2 separate regions of the Homo sapiens genome follow, and region 2 is linked to region 1. The links come from fine-mapping of genetic effects on gene expression. Tissue or cell type: macrophages after interferon gamma. Region 1 holds a variant in brackets; the other region holds the start of a gene. All regions are shown on one strand. Distances are from middle to middle.

The links. PIP is the estimated chance that this variant, and not a neighbour inherited with it, causes the effect.
Region 2: it holds the start of PKD2L1, and the variant in region 1 is fine-mapped to the expression of PKD2L1 in macrophages after interferon gamma (Alasoo 2018, PIP 0.95).

What each region holds. Positions count from the first base shown.
Region 1 is chr10:100,952,200-100,960,119 of GRCh38, reverse strand. SLF2 (SMC5/6 complex localization factor 2) reads right to left here. Exons shown (of 20, transcript NM_018121.4): 18 at 3,583-3,669; 19 at 624-692. Among named protein-coding and RNA genes, the nearest start is that of SEMA4G, 13 kb to the left of the region's middle. The variant A/G (reference allele first, on the strand shown) is at 4,032.
Region 2 is chr10:100,327,922-100,334,229 of GRCh38, reverse strand. PKD2L1 (polycystin 2 like 1, transient receptor potential cation channel) reads left to right here and starts at 4,002. Exons shown (of 16, transcript NM_016112.3): 1 at 4,002-4,361; 2 at 4,906-5,019. The coding sequence starts at 4,127.

The DNA of each region.
Region 1 (7,920 bases):
GGATGTACATGCTATAACATGGATTCACTTATTATTATATTAACTGAAAACAGCCAATTACAAAAGATTACATAGTATATCTCATTTACCGATGTCCAGAATAGGGAAATGTATAGGGACAGAAAGTAGATTAGTGTTTGCCTAGGATTTGGGAGGAGTCAGGAGGGGAACCAAGGTAGTAGAGGAAAGGGGAATGAATGACTGCTAATGGGTATGGGATTTCTTTTTGGGGTGATGAAAATGTTCTAAAATTAGACTATGGTGATGTTATTCACTCTGTCAATGTAATAAAAACCACTGTACACGTTAAGTGGGTAAAATCTATGGTATGTGAATTCTATCTCAATAGATCTGTCTTAAAAATGCTCTTAATTGAATAACCTCCATTTGATGCAATGCAATATTTTTAAATGGGCTCAACCACTTCTGGAAATAAATTAATGAATATAAAGCAAACGAAAACTAAAAAAATTACAAACCATGTATTATACTGGCGTTTTCAGTTTATCTTAAGATAACTAGAAGCAAGTGCACTGTTATACCCTATTTTATTTCAAACAGTATGAAGAGTGCCATTCAGCAAAACTATTAAGAATACATGAAATTGTATAACAAAATGACACCTGAGTAGGCCGACAGTTCTGGATTATTTCCTGCCATTTTCCATGTATCCTGGCGACCAAGTCTTTCACCTTAAAAATATCAAAAACAGGAAAAGGGATCAGATTAAAACATTCTCACCTACAATCAGCTTAACACTACACAAAATATCTGACAGCTGCAACAGGCCCACACTCAACAACTCAATTTGATTTCTGTCAACAAAGAGAAAATAAACTACTCATCTTTTGAAGGAGATTTCAAATCATAGAAATTAATAAGACTCCCTTTATCATCATAATCTAAACTATTGAATGCTTATGATTTAATTTTCCTGTTATTGAAGATCATCCCCAAAAACACATTCTCTGCCTTCAAAGGAACTTAACTTTAACTCGCTGGCTTTTGAACAACCAGATAGAGAAGCTGAAGGGTGGTCTGTGTCAACAGGGCCCAAGGCTTTGGCTGTTCTGTGCCTTCCCTTCCCAGCTTCCCTTTGAAAGGATCAAAGCCATAAAAAAAACGTTTATTTGTCCCTCTCCACATTATTAGAAGATCCAAAATTCACTGTTACTCCTCTCCATGCTTGTGCCCAAGTACTACGAATCCCCTTTAAATACCTCGTATTTTCCTACATTTGGAGGTTTAGCAAGTGTCTGTGCACAACTGAAACTGTAACACAAAACCCAAACTCTATCACTCTAGAGATTCTCAATTAGCTATTGAACATAACTGCTTGAGAAACATGTTTTCAACAAGTCAGGAATTTTATAGCAGCTTTAAATTTATAAAGTAAACTACAATCTATGCTTTTTTCTTCATCTACAGTTCAAATTTCTCCAAAACAATCACCAACTTTTCTATAATAGAGGCTTTTGGAGAGGCAGGCAACTCATCTATTTCAGCAGGACCATCCCTTGAAGCAATTTCCACAGACCACTGTGTCGCTTTCCACTTTAAGTAAGAGAAGCACTGGCAACAATCTGTGCCAAGCCCTTGTCTTTAAGAAACATAAAACTTGGGTGGTCCCCTTTTAGCATGGCTGTCAGTAGTAGCCACTACCAAGTTCTACAGGCCAGCAATTCTGGTCAATGAATGCTCAAAAGAATGTGCTTCTGAAACTAGAGTTCTACTCTTGGGGAAAGAGCTATCCCCTACATGTATTTGAAAATCAGAAATCTGATAACTTCATTAGTTGCTTATTTTTGTATTTAACTTAAATTTACTAAAATAAATACATATGTTAAATCTGAATGGGCATTGTTCAAATGACTAACCTTTGCAGCTAATTAATGTAAGATATTAAGTTACAAAGCTGAGGCTTCACATTCAATGACTATCCAAAGACAAGAGGCAAAAAGAATCAGCATTGTATTACATTATCAAAGCTAAAAGATAATCTTGGAATAAAAAAATCTTTAGAAAAAAGTATGTTTATTTTATTTTGTTTTATTTATTATTATTATTTTTTGAGACAGAGTCTTGCTCTGTCGCCCAGGCTGGAGTGCAGTGTCGAGATCTCAGCTCACTGCAAGCTCTGCCTCCTGGGTTCAAGGGATTCTCCTTCCTCAGCCTCCTGAGTAGCTGAGACTACAGGCACGCACCACCACACCTGGCTCATTTTTGTATTTAGAAAAAAGTATTTTAAAAGTGTCTGATTTTATGTTTCAGGAAAAACTGTCAAATCATTCTATTAATACTAACATTATTTTCCTACTCCATACTCATATATTTGGCTTTTCTACTGTCTTTGAGTATATAAAACCTTTAAGAAAAAAAGCTTAGCAAGCTTAGTGCTGAAATCATTTCCACCCTAGAGCTCAGACTAGGTGTTGTACGACCCAAAGATTTGAAGACTCCTGGCTGGGTGTGGTGGCTCACACCTCTAATCCCAGCTCTTTGGGATGCCGAGGCAGGCAGATCACGAGGTCAGGAGTTCGAGACTAGCCTGGACAACACAGTGAAACCCCGTCTCTACTAAAAATACAAAAAAAAAAAAAAATTTGCCGGGCATGGTAGCGGGCGCCTGTAATCCCAGTTACTTGGGAGGGTGAGGCAGGAGAATCGCTTGAACCTGGAAGGCGGGGGTTGCAGTGAGTCGAATTTGTGCCACTGCACTCCAGCCTAGGCAACAAGAGTGAAACTCCATCTCAAAAAAAAAAAAAAAAAAAAAAAAAAAAAAAAAAAAATTGAAGACTCCTTCCTTTAACATATTCTTCAATGAAACATTCAAAGAATAACAGCTAATCTATTTGTACTCTATGAATAAAACAAGTTTTCAACCATCATAAAATTTCAAAGCCACTGTTTCATAACTTACGTATTTATTTAAATAATGCTTCAATCCTTGATGGTAACTTAAGCATGAAGGTTTTAATTTGTGTAATGGGGAAAAATATGTATCATTAGTACTAGAAGTATTTTTCTCCTTGGGTGTCAGGAGTTTCAGAACAGAAAGTAAAGTGAAAAGTGTATTTGCTTTGAGATTTTTTTTCCTTTCACTTTTAATTTAGCTACACTAATTTAGCAGGAGCTGATTTCTGTTATTAAAAGAGAAAGTCCTATTTCTAATCTTACATGTTTCTTTTTGTTTTCGAGACAGAGTCCTACTCTATCTCCCAGGCTGGAGTGCCATGTGTGTTCATAGCTCACTGCAACCTCAAACTCCTAGGCTCCAGTGATCCTCCTGCCTCAGCCTCCCAAGTAGCCAGAACTACAGGTGCATGACACCATGCCTGGCTATTTTTCAAAAATTTTTGTAGAGATGGAGTCTTGCTATGTTGCCCAGGCTGGTCTTGAACTCCTGGCTTCAAGCAATCCTCCTGTCTCAGCCTCCCAAAGTATTGGGATTACAGGCATGAGCCACCATGCCTAGCCTTATATGTTCTTTTTCTGAATATAGGCCTGTATGCTTCTATCCTTAAATATTAACGTAACCAAGATTAAGAAAAAAAAAAAGAAAAAAAGAAAGAACACACTTACCTTAGTTCTGTAAAAAAGTCTTGCATCTTCCCTAATATCACATTTAACATGCTTTTCCAAAGCCCCACAGAGTAGCACAAAGTGTTTCTGTGCAAAACAAATGCAAGGGATGAAAACAATTCTGAAGCATTACAAATTAACAAAGAAATTATGCAGCTAGAACAACTAAATCATTTAAAAATCTATTATTCCTGTTAGCAATGACTGATATTAACTATTCAACGTAACAGTAGTTGTATCAGTGAAAGCTGCTTCCATGACAATAAGATTACTAGTTTAAAAAATACACACTGTAACAAAAGTTGTTTTGCTATGCATTAACTCGCATTAATGAAAATTAACCCCAGAGCTCTAACTGGGTAATATAGTACTCAGAAATTTAAAGAGTCCTTCCTTTAACATACTCGCTAACAAAATATTCAGACAACGGCTAGCCTTTTAAAAAAAAA[A/G]AAAGAAAAAAATTTTTTAAAGAAATGGGGTCTGGCTCTGGTGCCAGGCTGGAGTGCAGTGGCACAATTATAGCTCACTGCACCCTTGAACTCCCCAGCTCAAGTGCTCCTCCAGTCTCAGCCTCCTGATTAGCTAGGATTACAGGCATGCACCACCGTGCCCAGTTCTTTTTTTTTTTTTTTGAGACAGAGTCTTGCTCTGTCACCCAGGTTGAAGTGCAGTGGTGCGATCTCAGCTCACTACAACCTCTGGCTCCCAGGTTCAGGCGATTCTCTGCCTCAGCCTCTTGAGTAGCTGGGATTACAAGTGTGCACCACCATGCCCAGCTAATTTTTATATTTTTAGTAGAGACAGGTTTTGCCACGTTGGCCAGGCTAGTCTCAAACTCCTAACCTCAGGTGATCCACCTGCCTCAGCCTCCCAAAGTGCTGGGATTACAGGTGTGAGCCACCGCGCCCAGCCAATATTTTTTTAATTTTTAAATTTTTTTTGTGGAGACAGGGTCTCACTTTGTTGCCAAGGCTAGTGTCAAATGCATGGCTTCAAGTGATCCTCCCACTTCAGACTCCCAATGTGTTGAGATACAAGCATGAGCCACTGCGACTCGCTAGCACAACACTGGCCCATTTGATATTTGGTGATGTTGGTATCTTATGAATGTATTATACTGCTGCCAAGGTATAATGGTTAAATTCCACTCCAACAAACAGAGCTAACATTTGTTGACAAATAATGTTTTCAATATGACATGATTACAAGACCACTATCATGCCCCTCTTTCTGGTATATATGGGAATTCTTATAGCAAAATCAGTTTGTGACTTTTTTTTTTTTTAAGAGATAGGGTCAGCCGGGCGAGGTAGCTCACACCTGTAATTCCAACACTTTGGGAGGCCGAGGCGGGCAGATCACAAGGTCAGGAGATCAAGACCATCCTCACTAACATGGTGAAAACCCGTCTCTACTAAAAATACAAAAAAATTAGCCGGGCGTGGTGGCGGGTACCTGTAGTCCCAGCTACTCGGGAGGCTGGGGCAGGAGAATGGCGTGTACCCGGGAGGCAGAGCTTTCAGTGAGCCGAGACTGTGCCACTGCACTCCAGCCTGGGTGACAGAGTGAGACTTCATCTCAAAAAAAAAAAAAAAAGAGAGTCTTGCCTTGTTATCCAGGCTGGAGTGCAATGGTGGGATCATAGCTCACTGCACCTTTGAACTCATAGGCTCAAGTAATCTTCACATCTCAGTCAGTCTTCTGGGTAGCTGGGACTACAGGTACGTGCCACCACACTTAGCTAGTTTTTGTTTTTTTGTAGAGACAGCATCTTGCTATGTTGCCTAAGCTGGTTTTAAACTCCTAGGCTCAAGCAATCCTCCTGTCTCTGCTTCCCCAAGTGTTGGATTACAGGCATGAGCCACCACACCTGGCCTATTTTTTTTTCTATAGGAACAAGATAACCTTTCATTAATAGAGGTTCATACTTAATTCTTTGAAAAATTATGCATCTTAAATTTTAGAAATGTATAGACCTAAGCAGTTCTCTCACATATACTTGGTGAGAACGTAAATGAACACTTTCTGGGATGAAAATGTGATAATAGCGATTTAAAATAATTAAAATTTGAAATATTTATAAACTTTGATCTAACAATTCTACTTCTAGGAATTTACCTTATAGCTATGCTTGCAGAAGTGGGCAAAGATATATGAATAAGCATGTTCATATTAACACTATGTGCAATCACAAAAAACATACTGTTTATCAATAAAGGTTTCAAAATACTATAGTTATTAGATAGAAGTACAAATATTTGATTTTTTATATATTTTTTTGAGACAAGGTCTCACTCTGTCACCCAGGCTGGAGGGCAGTGGCATGACCACAGTGCATGGCAGCCTCAACCTCCTCAGGCTCAGGTGTTCCTCCTGCCTCAGCCTCCCAAGTAGTTGGGACTACAGGCATGCATCACCATGCCCGGTTAATTTTTTTTTTTTTTGTAAAGATGGCATGCTGCTCTGTTGCCTAGGCTGGACTTGAACTCCTGGGCTCAAGCGATCTGCATGCCTCGGCCTACCAAAGTGCTAGTATTACAGTTGTGAGCCACTGCGCCCAGCCAAGTGCTAATGTCTTAAAGAGGAGGCCGGGCACAGTGGCTCACGCCTGTAATACCAGCACTTTGGGAGGCTGAGGCGGGTGGATCACTTGAGGTCAGGAGTTCGAGACCAGCCTGGCCAACATGATGAAACCCCGTCTCTACCAAAAATACAAAAATTGGCCAGCATCATGGCACATGCCTCTAGTCCCAGCTACTCGGGAGGCTGAGGCAGGAGAATCACTTGAACCCAAGAGACGGAGGTTGCAGTGAGCTGAGATCGTGCCACTGCACTTCAGCCTGGGTGACAGAGCAAGACTGTCTCAAAAAGAAAAAAAAATTTTTTTTTAAAGAGGAAAAAAAGGAAGTTGCAAATGATACTATGATTACATTTTTGTTAAAATAATTGTTAGTATATTATATGTAATATATTAGTAAATTGTGAAGAAATTTACAGGAGGGCACTGGATTGTAGGAGTCTTTCAGGTTTTACTTTATATAAGTTTTACAATAATCACTAAATTTTTTTTTTTTTTAAACAGAGATGGCATTGCCCAGGCTGCTCTTGAACTCCTGGGCTCAAGTGATCCTCCTGACTCAGCCTCCCAAAGTGCTGGGATTACAGGCATGAGCCACCATGCCCAGTCACTGACTTTTTTAATCATAAAAAGTAATTTATAGCCGGCATGGTGGATCAGGCCTGTAATCCCAGCACTTTGGGAGGCCGAGGTGGGCGGATCACAAGGTCAGGAGTTCGAGAGCAACATGATCAACATGGTGAAACCCCATCTCTACTAAAAATACAAAAATTAGCTGGGTGTGGATGTGGTGGCAGGCGCCTGTGATCCCAGCTACTTGGGAGGCTGAGGCAGGAGAATCGCTTGAACCTGGGAGGCAGAGGTTGCAGTGAGCCAAGATTGTGCTAGTGCACTCTAGCCTGGGTGACAGAGCAAGACTCCGTCTCGAAAAAAAAAATGTATAAAATATAAAAACCATGTAAGAACATTACAGATGACTATATTAGCTTCTAATCAGAAGAGCAAACACTTTTTGTTTTTGAGACAGAATTTTGCTCCTGTTGCCCAGGCTGGTGTGCAATGGCGTGATCTCAGCTCACTGCAACCTTCGCCTCCTGGGTTCAAGCAATTCTCCTGCCTCAGGCTCCCCAGTAGCTGGGATTACAGGTGCCCACCATCACGCCCGGCTAATTTTTGTATTTTTAGTAGAGACAGGGTTTCACCATGTTGGTCAGGCTGGTCTCGAACTCCTGATCTCAGGTGATCCACCCGCCTCAGCCTCCCAAAGTGCTGGGATTACATGTGTGAGCCACTGTGCCCAACCGCAAACACAGTTTTATATACAACAGCATTTATAAAAACATAAGAATTAGTCTTGTGTCTTTTCTATCATGTCTAGGAGATACTATGTATTTTTTTCTTTTTTTTTTTTTTGAGGTGGAGTCTCCCTCTGTTGCCCAGGCTGGAGTATAGTGGTGTGATCTCAGCTCACTGCAACCTCCACCTCCTGGGTTCAGGCAGTTCTCCTGCTTCAGCCTCCAGAGTAGCTGGGATTACAGGTGTCTGCCACCATGCCCAGCTAATTTTTTTTTTGTATTTTTAGTAGAGACAGGGTTTCATCATGTTGGCCAGGCTGGTCTCGAACTTCTGACCTCAAGTGATCCGCCCGCCTTGGCCTCCCAAAGTGCTGGGATTACAGGCATGAGCCACCACGTCCAGCCTAAGGTTTTTTTTTTTGAGATGAAGTCTCGCTCTGTTGCCCAGGCTGGAGTGCAATGGCA
Region 2 (6,308 bases), 630 kb after region 1:
ATGGGAGGTTGTTTTATAGCCTCTTACATCTTACCCATGATGAAAGTTCTGATGAAACATTTTTTTCCCCTTTGGTTCATTCATTACCCTTAGATAATCCCCTAAAGAGCACCTTCACAATCCCTCTCCTTCTTTGGGGCTTATGCCTTCAACTATCTGCACATGGCTGTCAGGACCCCATCCCACACACATGCATCTGCACATGGCTGTCAGGACCCCATCCCACACACATGCACCTGCACTCCTTAGCTCTTCAGCCAGGCCTACCCACATACAGTTCTTTTCATCTTTCCTCATACATCAAAACCTCAAGTGAATTGGAAGCGGGATTATGGCTCTCTTCTCAAGATTTTCTCACGTCAGCTGCATCCCTTCTCCTCAACCACATGCCAGGTTTGTGTATGCCAATAGCCATTCACCAATGGAAATGAGGTTTTTCTGGAATGCTGTGTTCTATAGTTAAAAAAAAAAAAGATTCCTCCTACCCATAGCTTATATCTAGGTTGGATCAATATTTATACAAACTATAATAAGGAGGAAAAATCTAAAAGAAGTCTGGGACTACCTTAAATCTCCAACCCCCCAAGAAACATTTAAACTACAAATAAAAATCTCAAAATAATATATTTCCCTTAAACATAGGCTATGAATTAATAAAATAAATTCAATCACCTTTTGGTAAAGGAAGCATGAAAAGATTGACTACTCATTTCTTTATGGATGAAAAATTAGCATGGATGAGTGCCCCAAATGAAAAAGAACCCTTCCTTTTCTTCTTATTTTGTCATTTCCTTCCCACTGACTTGGTCAGAAGCCACCTCCTTTTGTTCTTCAACCACTCTGAATAGCTGGTAGTTTCCATGGTCTCTGAAGGGATTCACGCACACCACAGTTCTCGGCGGCAATAGGGACCACCAGAGGTCCTCACCCTCGTTATGCAACCTCAGGCCTTCCCCCTCCTCTGTTTTCTCCCAACTGCACTAAGGGCCAGTCTTCTACAACCCTAGGGGCATCACAGACATCTTCAGAGCCCCAAGACCCCACCTATCATTCCTATGCTTAGAAGGAACCTCTTCTTTTCCAAACCTTCCCATCCAAACCTGATGGGGCTCTTCCTTCCCAAACCTCGCCCATCCATCAAGATCTAGCTTCTGTTTCATTTCCTCCAGAGGAAGCTTCCTTTTCCCCTAAACTTCATAATGTTTAGTGTCTATACCATTAAAATAGGCTACCTCACATTATTCATGCCTCCATTTGCTGCTGCTGCTTTTTTTTTTTTTTTTTTTTGAAACAAGCTCTTTCTCTGTCACCAAGGCTGGAGTGCAATGGCATGAACACGGCTCACTGCAGCCCTGACCTCCCGGGCTCAAGCAATCCTCCTGCCTCAGCCTCCTGTGTATTTGGGATCACAGACATGCATTACCATGCCCAGCTAATTTTTTGATTTTTTTGTAGAGACAGGGTCTCACTTTGTTGCCCAGGCTGGTCTTGAACTCCTAGTCTCAAGCTCGGCCTCCCAAAGTGCTGATGTTAGCCACTGTGCCTGGCCCATTTGCTCCATTTTTTAAAGTTTTATTTTATTTTTAATTGATAAATAATAATTCTATATACTTATGAGGTACAATGTGACATTTTGATACATGTATACATTGTGGAGTGATCAAATCAGGTGAATTAGCATATTCATTACTTCAAATATTTATCATTTCTTTGTAGTAAGAACTTTTTAAATCCTCTCTGTTAGCTATTTTGAAGTACACAGTACCTCATTATCAACTGTAGTCACCACACTGTGCAACAGAACAACAGAACATATTTCTCTTGCCTGATTGAAAGCTTTTATCCATCGACCACTCTCTTCCCCTCTCACACACCCCTCACCCCCAGCCTCTGGTAACCACCATTCTACTCTCTACTTCTACGAGTTCAATTTTTTTAGTTTCCACATATAAGTGAGAGCATAGGGCATCTGTCTCATTATGCCTGGCTTATTTCACTTAACATAATGTTCTCTAGGTTTATCTATGTTGTCGTAAATGACAGAATTTTCTGTGTTTTTTTTTTCAAGGCTGAATATATTATATTGTGCATATATACCACATCTTTTAAATCCTTTCGTCAGTTGATGGATACTTAGATTGTTTCCATATCTTGGCTATTATTAATAATCCTGCAATGAACATGGGAGAGGAGACATCTATTCAACACACTGATTTCAATTCCTTTGAGATTCTTGGAACATATGGTAATTCTATTTTTAGTTTTTTGAGGAACCTCCATACTGTTTTCCAAGATGTCCGTACTAATTTACAATACAGCCAAGCATACAAGGGGCCCCTTTTCTCCACAGCCTTGCCAACACTTGTTATCTTTCTTTCTTTCTTTTTTCTTGAGACAGGGTCTTGCTCTGTTGCTCAGGCTGGAGTGCAGTGGTGTGATTTCAGCTGACTGCAGCCTCAACGCCTCAGCCTCCCCAGCTCAAGTGGTTCTCCCACCCCAGCCACCTGAGTAGCAGCTGGGACTACATGCACGCACCCCATGCCTGGCTAATTTTTGTTGTTTTGTTGTTGTTTTGTAGAGGCGGTGTTTCACCATGTTGCCCGGGCTGGTCTTGAACTCCTGAGCTCAAGTGATCCTCCTGCCCTGGCCTCCCAAAGTGCTGGAATTACAGGTGTGGGCAACCACACCCAGCCAAGATCTCTTTATAGGGACACTCAAGACTGATTATTTTGACAAGGCTGATGTTTTGCTGAATGTGAAGGTGGGCTTCAGGCCAGTGAGTAGCCCTGGGTGGGGAGCCAGGAGTTAGGAGAGGAAAGTCTCTGCTCTAGCCTCAAGGAGGAGAAACTGCAGGGTGACCACCACAACCTGTGGGATCAGCCCCATTCTGGGGCATCATGCATGCCTATAGGGGAGCTGGAGCAGGTGATCAGAAGCTGGAGCAGGGCATAGGCAGGGATGTGCTTGGGGGCCCATGACACAGTTTTAATTCAGAGACCTGCAGTTATAAAGAAAGCAGATTAATCCTGATATCATGGATAGTTCCACTTTGTGCTCAAGTTTACGATTCTAGGCCCAGGACTAAGCAGAGCCATGGGAAAAGGTTCCCAGCTCAGCTGGGTCCAGATATCCACTCCCCTTTAGTCCCACATCATACTGTCCTTGTCCTTTGTTCTCCGATCCAGCCTCCCAACCAGGTCTTAGCCTTTTTCCCATACTGAGCCCCACACCCTTAAGGAACCCCCTCTCTTGGTGTATCTCACCTGTAAGCCATGGAAAGGCAAGCTTCAGAACAAGGAATATAGACAACCTAGGACTCTGTGGTCCTCTCCCCTGCCCCCTCAGTGCCCTGAAGTATGTGAGACTGGGGTTCCTCCTGCCACTGTCCTTTCCCCACGGCTGAGAGGGTGAAGTGAGGGAAGGGAGCTGCCCATCTCTGCTCCACCAGGGGACAGCTGAAGGTGAGACAGGACAGGAGCCTCAGACCCATTGACTGAACCTGGGAGGTGGGCAGAGCCTGGGAGGGGGACAGCGCTCTTCAGCTTTCCTCCCAGCCTTGGTCCCCACCCCAATCCATGTCGGCCCTTTTAGGAGCTTTTAGTGGAAATGAGCTCAGACCCGCAGCACAGGCCCCCGGCTCCCCTCCTGTCTCAGCTCCTCCCATTGCTCTTTGATCGTCTCTTCTGTCCGACCTCTGGGCCATCTCTCCACCAGGCACATCTGCGAGCAGCCCCCTTCATCCCCAGCATCGCCTTTTCCTCCCGTTTCTCCTTCCACTCCCAGCTCCACATCCTCCTCCTATTCTCCCCTCTCCCCTCTTCAAACCCCCACCTTCCAGTTCCCTCACCTCCCCTTTCGGCTGGTCCCCTGGGGCTTGCAGCAAGAGGGAGAGAGAGCTCCTGACAGGATTGATGGTCCTTCCCCACCCTGTCCTCTCATCCGCTCCCTCCCCAGCAGGCACAGACATCCCCCTACAAAAGGCAGGAGCCCAGGCTGTGTGGAAACAGCTGCTCTCAGACGCCTTTCCATTTGCTCTCTGCTGGCTAGGCTGGGCTGTGCCTCTGCTCCCTCTTCCTCTAGCTGAGAGTGGGCACCTGGGGTACCGGGCCCCCCCACCTCATTCCCCATGAATGCTGTGGGAAGTCCTGAGGGGCAGGAGCTGCAAAAGCTGGGGAGTGGAGCCTGGGACAACCCCGCCTACAGTGGTCCCCCTTCCCCACACGGGACGCTGAGAGTCTGCACCATCTCCAGCACGGGGCCTCTCCAGCCCCAACCCAAGAAGCCTGAAGATGAACCCCAGGAGACGGCATACAGGACCCAGGTGTCCAGCTGCTGCCTCCATATCTGTCAAGGCATCAGAGGTACCAGATAGGGGGACAGTTCTCCTGGGATATTAGAATCAGGAGGAGTCACCAAAAGCTTTTGGGCAGGGGGTGGGGGTGGAATGTGATCTGAAGAAGAGGTGACCTTTCGGTGTCACTTTGGGGTGTATGAATTGCCCATGGTAGTGCTGCATGACCCAGAACACAGAGGCCAGCTGAGCGGTCTACCGGTTGTGGGAGCCTGGCATGGTCATCACCTGGGGATCCAGAGAGGTATGTGGGAGCTGGTTTGAGGGAGGACATGGATGTGATGATGCCCTAGACTACCCCACCTGGAACAGGTGCCTCCTTTCCATGCCTTCATTCTCTACAAGCCAGGGCCTTCACCCCTGTCGACCTCAGGGAGCTGATGGGAAGAGCAAGCATGGGTGTGGGTACAGTAGCCAGATTCAGCCAAGGATGAAGGTGATGGGCAAGGAAGGGCAGGGGTGGAAAGGGGCTAAAGTCCAGAGACAGATGGGTGGGGATGACTGGGAGGAACACTGCCACTGAGCATCCCAGGCATCTCTCCCATGCCCCTTAGGACTTTGGGGAACAACCCTGACTGAGAACACAGCTGAGAACCGGGAACTTTATATCAAGACCACCCTGAGGGAGCTGTTGGTATATATTGTGTTCCTGGTGGACATCTGTCTACGTGAGTAGCATCTGTGTTTGTGTACATCTGTCTGTGAGAAACATCTATGTGTGCACTATATGTATAAACATTCCTGTGGGCAACATCTGTGGAGCGAGCATCTATCTGTGTAAGCAGGCTATATCCGGGAACTTTAGATAACAATATTCCAATCCCATCTATTTACCTTTGCAGCTTAAGATATTTTGTTTAAAAGGAATTTGTCAGTAGAGGAAGGCAGTTTGGTCAAGAATTACAAGGGGAAACCAGTTTTTGGCAGCCATTGTTTTCTATTGGCTGAAAAGGTGAAAGGTGAAAATATTTTACCCTTCTGTAGAGAGTGGGCTGGCACGGTGGCTCACGCCTGTAATCCCAGCACTTTGGGAGGCCGAAGTGGGCACATCACCTGAGGTCAGGAGTTTTGAGACCAGCTTGGCCAACATGGCGAAACCCTGTCTCTACTAAAAATACAAAAATTAGCTGGGTGGCAGGTGCCTGTAATCCCAGCTACTCAGGAGGCTGAGGCAGGAGAATCGCTTAAACCCAGGAGCAGAGGTTGCAGTGAGCCAAGATCGTGCCACTACACTCCAGCCTGGGGGACAGAGCAAGACTCTGTCTCTCTGTCTCCAAAAAAAAAAAAGAGTGGAAAACCACTCCCTTCTGTTTGGAAAGATAGTTTGGTGGGCTTCACGTAGTTATTATACTATATCCGATGCATGTTTCTTTAGAGGCAGAGAAAAAGATGGAAGAAAAAAGAGAGGAAGTAAAAGATCCAGGCGACCTTAGATCTCAGATCCCTGTTAAGAGAGGGAGGGAAACACATGGTATGGTGATGGTCCCATGTGAGAGACCACCATGTCACATGCCATTGGAGGAAGCTTATTGAGGCTCTAGCTATAGACACAAACTGAGAAATTTTGATCTCTAAGTTGAGAGAAGCAAGTGAAAAGATAGGAGGGCGACTGTGGGAAGATAGAGTCAAAGAACCGTAAATAATAATAAAATTGGACCAAACAGATGCTATTAGACTTGTAGGTAATGACAGCAACTTTGTATTTGGTTTATTACTTCTTTCAAAAGTTGCACAAGTGATGTTTGCCTAGTTTAATATAGTTGTGTGTGGGGTTGTGTTTTGATTAAAGCTGTAGGTTGAATCGTACAACTAAGATGCCCTCATTAGTAGGTGTTCTAGGCTCCGCAATACTCTGTTCTTGTCAGGGTGCATAAATCTTTTGAAAGTGGAGTCAAAGAGTCTCATAACATTAATGTTGATGAAATGTTGTCTTATTTTTTGAGCCACCCACATTTGT